Linked DNA regions of Homo sapiens: region 2 is reported to be linked to region 1. Evidence: microRNA targets listed by miRTarBase, many of them from high-throughput screens and not tested one by one. Region 1 holds a microRNA gene; the other region holds the end of a gene's coding sequence.

What was found. Region 1 holds the annotated microRNA hsa-miR-335-3p (UUUUUCAUUAUUGCUCCUGACC, at 2,054-2,075, shown strand). A microRNA usually pairs through its seed, bases 2 to 8, with sites in the 3' UTR of a target mRNA and lowers its output. Matches are read on the target gene's strand: a 7mer-m8 pairs with bases 2 to 8, a 7mer-A1 pairs with bases 2 to 7 and ends in A, and an 8mer does both.
Region 2: the mRNA of GLIPR1L2 is a reported target of hsa-miR-335-3p. Seed matches in the 3' UTR shown: 7mer-A1 at 678-684 and 7mer-m8 at 1,399-1,405.

What each region holds. Positions count from the first base shown.
Region 1 is chr7:130,494,109-130,498,260 of GRCh38, forward strand. MIR335 (microRNA 335) reads left to right here and starts at 2,003; the gene lies at 2,003-2,096. MEST (mesoderm specific transcript) reads left to right here. Exons shown (of 12, transcript NM_002402.4): 2 at 1,260-1,414; 3 at 3,048-3,127; 4 at 3,828-3,905; 5 at 4,031-4,152.
Region 2 is chr12:75,430,742-75,434,741 of GRCh38, forward strand. GLIPR1L2 (GLIPR1 like 2) reads left to right here. Exons shown (of 6, transcript NM_001270396.2): 6 at 83-1,947. The coding sequence ends at 420. Among named protein-coding and RNA genes, the nearest start is that of GLIPR1L2, 42 kb to the left of the region's middle.

The DNA of each region.
Region 1 (4,152 bases):
TGTAAAACCACAGGCTTGTTTTTAGATTTTAGCAAAAAGTATCAGGGATATGGGGGGGAAAAGTATCTTGTAAGTTGAGGAAGTTAGCGAACGGGTAGGTAGATTACAGGCAATAGGGAAGAATGTGTGTACAGACGGAAAGCCATTTCCCCCAGGGCTTTAGCAATTAATTTATTTCAGCTCTATGACAACTCTAATTTTAGTTTTGGAGGGTATTATTTCCATTCTGGCTGTTTTGAGAGAACTTCCATTCTACTGACAATTCTTGATCTGTTGACCATCAGAAGTCATAGACTTGAAACAGAACGGTTTATAATTCCTGTTTGGCACTCCTTGTCAATGTGGATAAACTGACTTGTGCCTTTGAAGTCCTGGGCATGGGAGGGTTGGGTGTACCAACCAGTGCTCTTTTTCCAAAGACAAAATCAATTCTCACACGCTGGGTATGAGTTATGCCTTATCTGGGGGTGGGGGAGCATCTTAGGAAATTAAATGGAAACTTAAAGAGTCTGCTAAGAAAAGCAGAAATGTAATCTACCGCCTTGACCTCTCAAGAGATTAGATATTCAGGGTCATGACAAAGCTGCTTATGTTGGAATACACAGTGCAGCTATCTTACTTTCACAGACTGTTTACCCTGAGCAGTTTCTCAGCCCAAATCCAGAAAGGAGTACTAAATGGGGCTTCATTTAGGCAGGAGGGCTGAAAATCAGGAGTAGCTCTCTGCTTGAGGACATGTGATAAGTTACTACACACACACACTCTTTAAAACATGAGATATAGCACATATATATTTTTTGAACATTTTACTGGTTGGGGGTAGTGGGTAGATGGTAGAGCTTTTGGAGTAAATAAGAAAGAAGTTATTTTTTTCCTGGGAAGCCTTGATAAAAGTCAACGAAAGAGTGTCCAGCATTTAAGTCATGTCCCTTTTATTTATATAAAGTCCTCTTCAGCAGGTATTGGGAAGACCACAAGGGTAGGGGCTAAGGGGTTAAAGTCGGGGAGCAGAGGCAGAAGATTATATGTTGAAATAATGTATTTTTTTTCCTTAAGATTAGAATGATGAACAAATATGGTGAGTGCTATGGCAGACAGAGGTTTGATTATAGTCTCGGTCAGCTTTGTGCCTATGTGAAGGGCAATGTAATCATTGCATGGTAACAGCAATCTCCCACCCCATCTTACCAGGTTTTGGTTTGTAGATGAGTGGACAATGTTACCTGACTGCTTACAGTGGGTCTCTGCTTTTCCTACAGGATGAGGGAGTGGTGGGTCCAGGTGGGGCTGCTGGCCGTGCCCCTGCTTGCTGCGTACCTGCACATCCCACCCCCTCAGCTCTCCCCTGCCCTTCACTCATGGAAGTCTTCAGGCAAGTTTTTCACTTACAAGGGACTGCGTATCTTCTACCAAGGTAAGAAGTGGACTATTGGAAGTCCTGCGTGTATCGGTCACATAAGTCCCAGCTGAGGTATTTATTTTGTGGCTATTGGTCTCTTGTTGCTCCTTAATGATGGAGGAGAGTATCTCTCTCTCTTTCTGTGTAGTGTGCTTGCAGAGAAGCGCAGAAAACTGCTGGGAGAATGGGGGTAGGGACTGAGATTCCAACCTGCAGACCTTACCTTTTAGTATAAGTTTTCTTTGTAGCTTGATATGTATTCCAATATTAGTTTTTTTTTTTTTTTGAGCAACCTGTCAGGTAATATATAAAATATTAATAGATATAACCACCATTGGTTCTCTCTCCTTACCATCCCTGATTTCATTTTTTCTGTAGATTATTTGTAGTGTAACTGTGATTTAAGTCTTGATACCATTATATAAATTAATTTGCTAGTGATGATGATTATTATGACCACTACTTATCAAGTAATTACCATATGCCAGGCACTGAGTTATGTTTTCAGCCTTCATTGTTTAATCTTTACAACAGCATTTGGAGATAGGTGCCATTAACCTCATTTTATAGGTGAAGAAACTGAGAAACAGATTGGAAATGATTTGTTTTGAGCGGGGGTCAAGAGCAATAACGAAAAATGTTTGTCATAAACCGTTTTTCATTATTGCTCCTGACCTCCTCTCATTTGCTATATTCAATTAAGTAAGTATACAATTTTTATTATGTTGGCTTGGGTTACTTCCAGTTTTACTGTTTTAGAAAACTAATGTTGAAGTAAAAGCTTCATGTCCATACAGTTTATTTTTTCCTTACATTTTCAAACTATACTACTTGTATAAATGGAATGATTTTATTTGCACAGATTCTCAAGAACAAAACTCTTAGGCTAAAGTATATACAATTTTTAACTGCTTCTAAATTATTTTTGAAAACCTTATTACCAAATTTTCATGTCACTGGCAGTATATGAATATACCTGTTCTAATCCCATACTATTAGCAAGGTTAATATTGTCTAAATGTTTACCTAATTTAGATGATGCTGAATGCTTCCATATTGTCATATGCATTAAAAAAGTTCATGTTTATGTTGATTAAGCCCTTTTTATAGTTGACAGGATTTTGTAATAGTTTTATTATGTTTTTGATGTTAGATTGGGTCTCCTGCTGAATAAAAAGTGCTGAGCAAACAGCATAAGCTAAAGGTGTTCCTTGGGAATAGTTGCTGTATCTTAGAGAATTTCTGTGAGGCCATTCATGATAAAGTACAAAGAATTTGTAGTTTATGTGTTGTGATCATATGCTTTTAACTGAAAATTTACTTTTCACTGAAAAAATTTGCATATTACAGAACAAAAGGAGAAATGGGGAGATGCTGTTTAAAAACACCTAGGTGAAAGTAAACAAGGTGCCTTCAAGTATTTTCACATAGCATGATTTTTACAATGTTTTAATATACAGATTGAAAGGAGAAAAGGCCTGTTCTCACCTAACGCAGTTAAGCTTACATTTTACAAATAATTGTGTCATTTTAATGTCAATTTGGTCACAGTTGCTTGTTCTTTGTATCAGATTACTTAGATTTTAACATCTTCGAGGTTATTTTTATAGGGATTTGGCATAATTGATTGTACTTTCCTTCTTCCTAGACTCTGTGGGTGTGGTTGGAAGTCCAGAGATAGTTGTGCTTTTACACGGTTTTCCAACATCCAGCTACGACTGGTACAAGGTAATGAAGTCAGACTTCTACGTCCTACTATGTCTTAAAAAATCTCGGCCGGGCGCGGGGGCTCAAATCCTAGCACTTTGGGAGGCTGAGGTGGGAGGATGACCTGAGGTCAGGAGTTTGAGACCAGCCAGGCCAACATGGCAAAACCCCATCTCTACTAAAAGTATAAAAATTGGCCAGGCATGGTGGCACAAGCCTGTAATCCCAGCTACTTGGGAGGCTGAGGCAGGAGAATCGCTTGAACCCGGGAGGCAGAGGTTGCAGTGAGCTGAGATTGCACCACTGCACTTCAGCCTAGGTGACAGAGCGAGAGTCTGTCTCAAAAAAAAATTTTTTTTTAATAAAAATTTAAAAAACCTCAAGGATTTTGTTGTCAGCACCAGAAGGCTCTTGCACATTTGAATTGCTTTTAAAAAAACATTAAATGTTGAACTGTTCCTTATTTACTGAAGGGAATAAACAACTCCTTGGCACTCTGGAAGGGATCACTGCCAAGTTACCCTCCCTCAACAGGGATTAATTACCAGGAATAAAGCATTTTCCAAGAGGATCATCTGTGGGACCTGTGGTAGTTTCATGGCGTTTTCTCTTTATGGAAGTCTGTTAAGCCAAGATAGGGCTGAAGCTCCTGTGCAACTGTAGGTCTGGTGAAAGGGAGGGGCAGGAGCAGAAAGCCCAAATCATCGTTTCTTTCTTGTAGATTTGGGAAGGTCTGACCTTGAGGTTTCATCGGGTGATTGCCCTTGATTTCTTAGGCTTTGGCTTCAGTGACAAACCGGTAAGCAGCACCTATGTGGGGCTGGTGATGGGGTGTGGGGGCAGACGCAGACTATGAGGGTCAGGCTGGCAGAGAGAGCTGTCCTCATGACTTCATCCTGTGTATGTGGGCTTTCCTTTCCTCAGAGACCACATCACTATTCCATATTTGAGCAGGCCAGCATCGTGGAAGCGCTTTTGCGGCATCTGGGGCTCCAGAACCGCAGGATCAACCTTCTTTCTCATGACTATGGAGATATTGTTGCTCA
Region 2 (4,000 bases), not on the chromosome of region 1:
GTATGTATTGTTGTCCTTTATTTCTTGAACAATTGAACTGCTTTATATGAAATCCAGCTTTCAATTGCTTCTTTGTTTACAGATTACCGATTTTGGTATCCAAAATGGGAAATGCCCCGGCCAGTTGTGTGTGATCCACTGTGCACATTCATTTTATTATTGAGAATATTATGTTTTATCCTGTGTGTCATAACTGTTTTGATAGTACAGTCTCAGTTTCCAAATATCTTGTTGGAACAACAAATGATATTTACCCCTGAGGAATCTGAAGCAGGGAATGAAGAGGAGGAAAAAGAGGAAGAGAAGAAAGAGAAAGAGGAAATGGAAATGGAAATAATGGAAATGGAGGAGGAAAAAGAAGAGAGAGAGGAGGAGGAGGAGGAAACACAAAAAGAAAAGATGGAGGAAGAGGAAAAATAAGAGTAGAAAGAGGAGGAAAAAGATGTATCACCAATATAAACCAAAAGTGTAATACAAAAAAAGACAGAAAAAAAAAAAAAGTAAAACACTGAGTTTTAACAAGAAAGAAAATATGCAAACCACCATTGGAATGTTTTTTATTCCCTTCTCTCCTATACTTATTCAATCAATTTAAATTTGTAAAACAAAGAAACAAAAAACATGTAAGGTGGGCTCTTTGACACTAAGAACAGATAAAGACATGACAGGAAAAACACTGAAAAACATTTGACCAGTCTAATTAATCTTAAGATTTCACCATGTTATTCTAATAAAGTAGGGAATTTTCATTTTCTAAACATGTTTCCATCTCTGTGTTTTAAATAGTAAGGTGCTTAAGATCATTCCAAGTTCATAACAACCATTGAATAAAATTTGTATTTTTTTGTTTTTACTGTTACTGTCATAGTTTTTATTGGTGGTAGTGGTATTTTCATGTGATATTAAGGTATCTAATATTATTATTTGTCTTTGTGGTTTTTGGAATAGTTTAAGTGGTACCTGTACATCCTGCTAGGATGCAAACTTATTATTTATAATTAATGTTCAATATTTCATTAAAGACTTGCTGTAATTTTCTGCCACCAAGGGCTAATAAATGCCATAATTTTAATTAGTTGTGGTAGAGGAATCTGGGTGCTTCCAAATTTATATGATAAAATAAATAAATTTTTTAAAAACTATTAACTTGTTATTCAATAGGTATAGTAAAAGTTAACAGATTAATAAGATAACTGCTTACCACTAGTAATACTAATAAATGAACTAAATAAAAATACCTAGCATAGGAGATTTCTTTATCTATAAAATAAATGGATAGCACTAGATGACCACTAAGACCTCTTCCATCAATGAATATTCATGGATCAACTTTGTAAAGGAATCAATAGTAGTTGTGAAGTACACTAAGCAAACACCTGAGGGAAAAACTTGATTCCCATGAAAATATTCCTGAACTCAGCACCTTATATGGCAAAATAATAAATACCTTTTATTACTCAATTTTAAAATAGGCAAAAAGCAATGTATAATATTTTTCCAATTGCCATTCCATACTCAGCTGTCTTATTGTTGCACACTTATTAGAACTCAATGTGACTGAGATGTGAAAGGTTGATATAATTCTATTTATGACAGGGACTTAGGGAACTTATTCTAATTGAGAATCAGAGGCTTAATAAACCTGAAGGTTTAAGTGAAAGAAATGACATTGAAAGAATCACTGCATATCTGATGTTTTCAAATAAAACAATCTCTGTTTTCTGGTTTTGATAGAATATTGTGTTCTAAAGCTATATTTCTCAATGTGTGGTTCCACTGAGGGAAAGAAAAAAAAAAAAACCTAGCATAGCCAAATACCTCAAATGGTATAAATGCTATGTGTATTTACTCTGTTGTTCTTTAGTTGTATCAATATTCTGTTAAAAACCTGTTCGAAGTAGGGCAAGATGAGAATTATATTAAAAAGCCCTGAGCTATCCTCTTGGATTTGAATGTTTCTGTTTGGTTTGTTTCCTTTGCTTTGTTTTTTTTTTCAAAGAGCTCCTGTTTGTAGAAATTAGATATTTTTCTATCTATGAAGTCAGCCTCTGTTCCACCAGTCCCCTGAGAAAAAGCCTTAGGTAGAGAAAAGGGCTAGTTCTCTACAGTGACGTTATTTATTATTATTATTGTACATTTGTGTTGTATTTCATAGCTTCCAAAGTCCTTTCATGTAAGTATTTGATATTCAAAACCATTCCTGTGGAGCTGGCATTGCTTCTATTTTTAAAATAAGAAAACTGACCTTGGATTTGTGAACATTTGATGCATTTACAAGTACAATTTCTTCATTTATTAATTCCCACACATGACTAACTTGTTATGTATCTGTATGCCTAACAGAACCTGGGCCTGGCCCAGGAAACCATTTTCTCCTAGGCCTCCAGGCCTGTGATGGGAGGGGCTCTGGTGAAAACTCTTGACACAGACTGGAGACATTTTCCCCATTGTCTTGGAGATTAACATTCATCTCCTCATTACTTATGCAAGTTTCTGCAGCCAGCTTCAATTTCTCCTCAGAAGATAGGTTTTTCTTTCTATCACGTTGACAGGCTGCAAATTTTCCAAACTTTTATGCTCTGTTTCTTTCATAAAACAACCCAAGTCACCTCTTGAAAGCTTTACTGCTTAGAAATTTCTTCCTCCATGTGAGAAATGGGAGTTCTTTTTCAAAGATTATAAAAAGTCACAATTTCTTACTATAAGATTGCTATATATATATAGTGGATTATATATATATATATAGTGGATTATATATATATAGTGGATTATTTATATATATATATATATAATGGATTTTATATATATATATAATGGATTATATATATATATTCCAAATCAGCTGTCCTAGCTTGCTCCGGCATGCCTGGACAGAAGTAGACAAGCCCCAGCCCATAGTGCATGCCACTCCTTATTTGGAGATGCTTCCTTAAGTATCCCTGGGCAACTTCCTTTTCTTTCTTTGTTCTATTCCCCTTACCTAATTAAGAAAGTTTTAAACTAATAACCAATCAGGTAAAGTGTAAAATGTGAGGTCCTATTCCAGCCAATGAAAACTGGACACAGCAGTAGGGTAGACATGTCAGGTTATAAATTACTCTGTCTCCTTTGTTTGGTGTGCTCTCGTGGCTGGATGGCTACTGAGTAGCACCCTTTCTGCAGAAAGTAAAGCTCACCTGGCTGAGAGATTGTTTGTTCCTGCATTCTTTTTTTTTTTTTTTTTCGACACCAAAAACTTCATTCCCAACATCCAGATGTCCTAAATGATCTCTCTCAAGTTCAAAGTTCCACAAATCTCTAGGGCAGGGGCAAAATGCCACCAGTCTCTTAGATAAAACATAGCAAGAGTCACCTTTACTCCAGTTCCCAACAAGTTCTTCAACCCCATCTGAGACCACCTCAGCCTGGACCTTATTGTTCATATCACTATCAGCATTTTGGTCAAAGCCATTCAAGAAGTCTCTAGGAAGTTCCAAACTTTCCCACATCTTCCTGTCTTCTTCTGAGCCTTCCAAATGGTTCCAACCTCTGCCTGTTACCCGGTTCCAAAGTCACTTCCACATTTTCAGGTATCTTTTCAGCAATGACTCATTCTAACTGGTACTAATTTACTGTATTAATCCATTTTCACGCCACTGATAAAGACCTACCCAAGACTGGGCATTTTACAAAAGAAAGAGATTTATTGGACTTACAGTTCCACCTGGCTGGAGGGGCCTCACAATCATGGCAGAAGGCAAGGAGGAGCAAGTCACATCTTGCATGGATGGCAGCAGGCAGAGAGAGAGCTTATGTAGAGAAACTCCCATTTTAAAAACCATCAGGTCTCATAAGACCCATTCACTATCACAAGAACAGCATGGGAAAGACCCACCCCCATGATTCAATCATCTCCTACTGCGTCCCTCCCACAACTCATGGGAATTATGGGAGCTACTGATGAGATTTGGGTAGCGATACAGAACCAAATCATATCACTACCCAAAGGAAAAGAAATAAT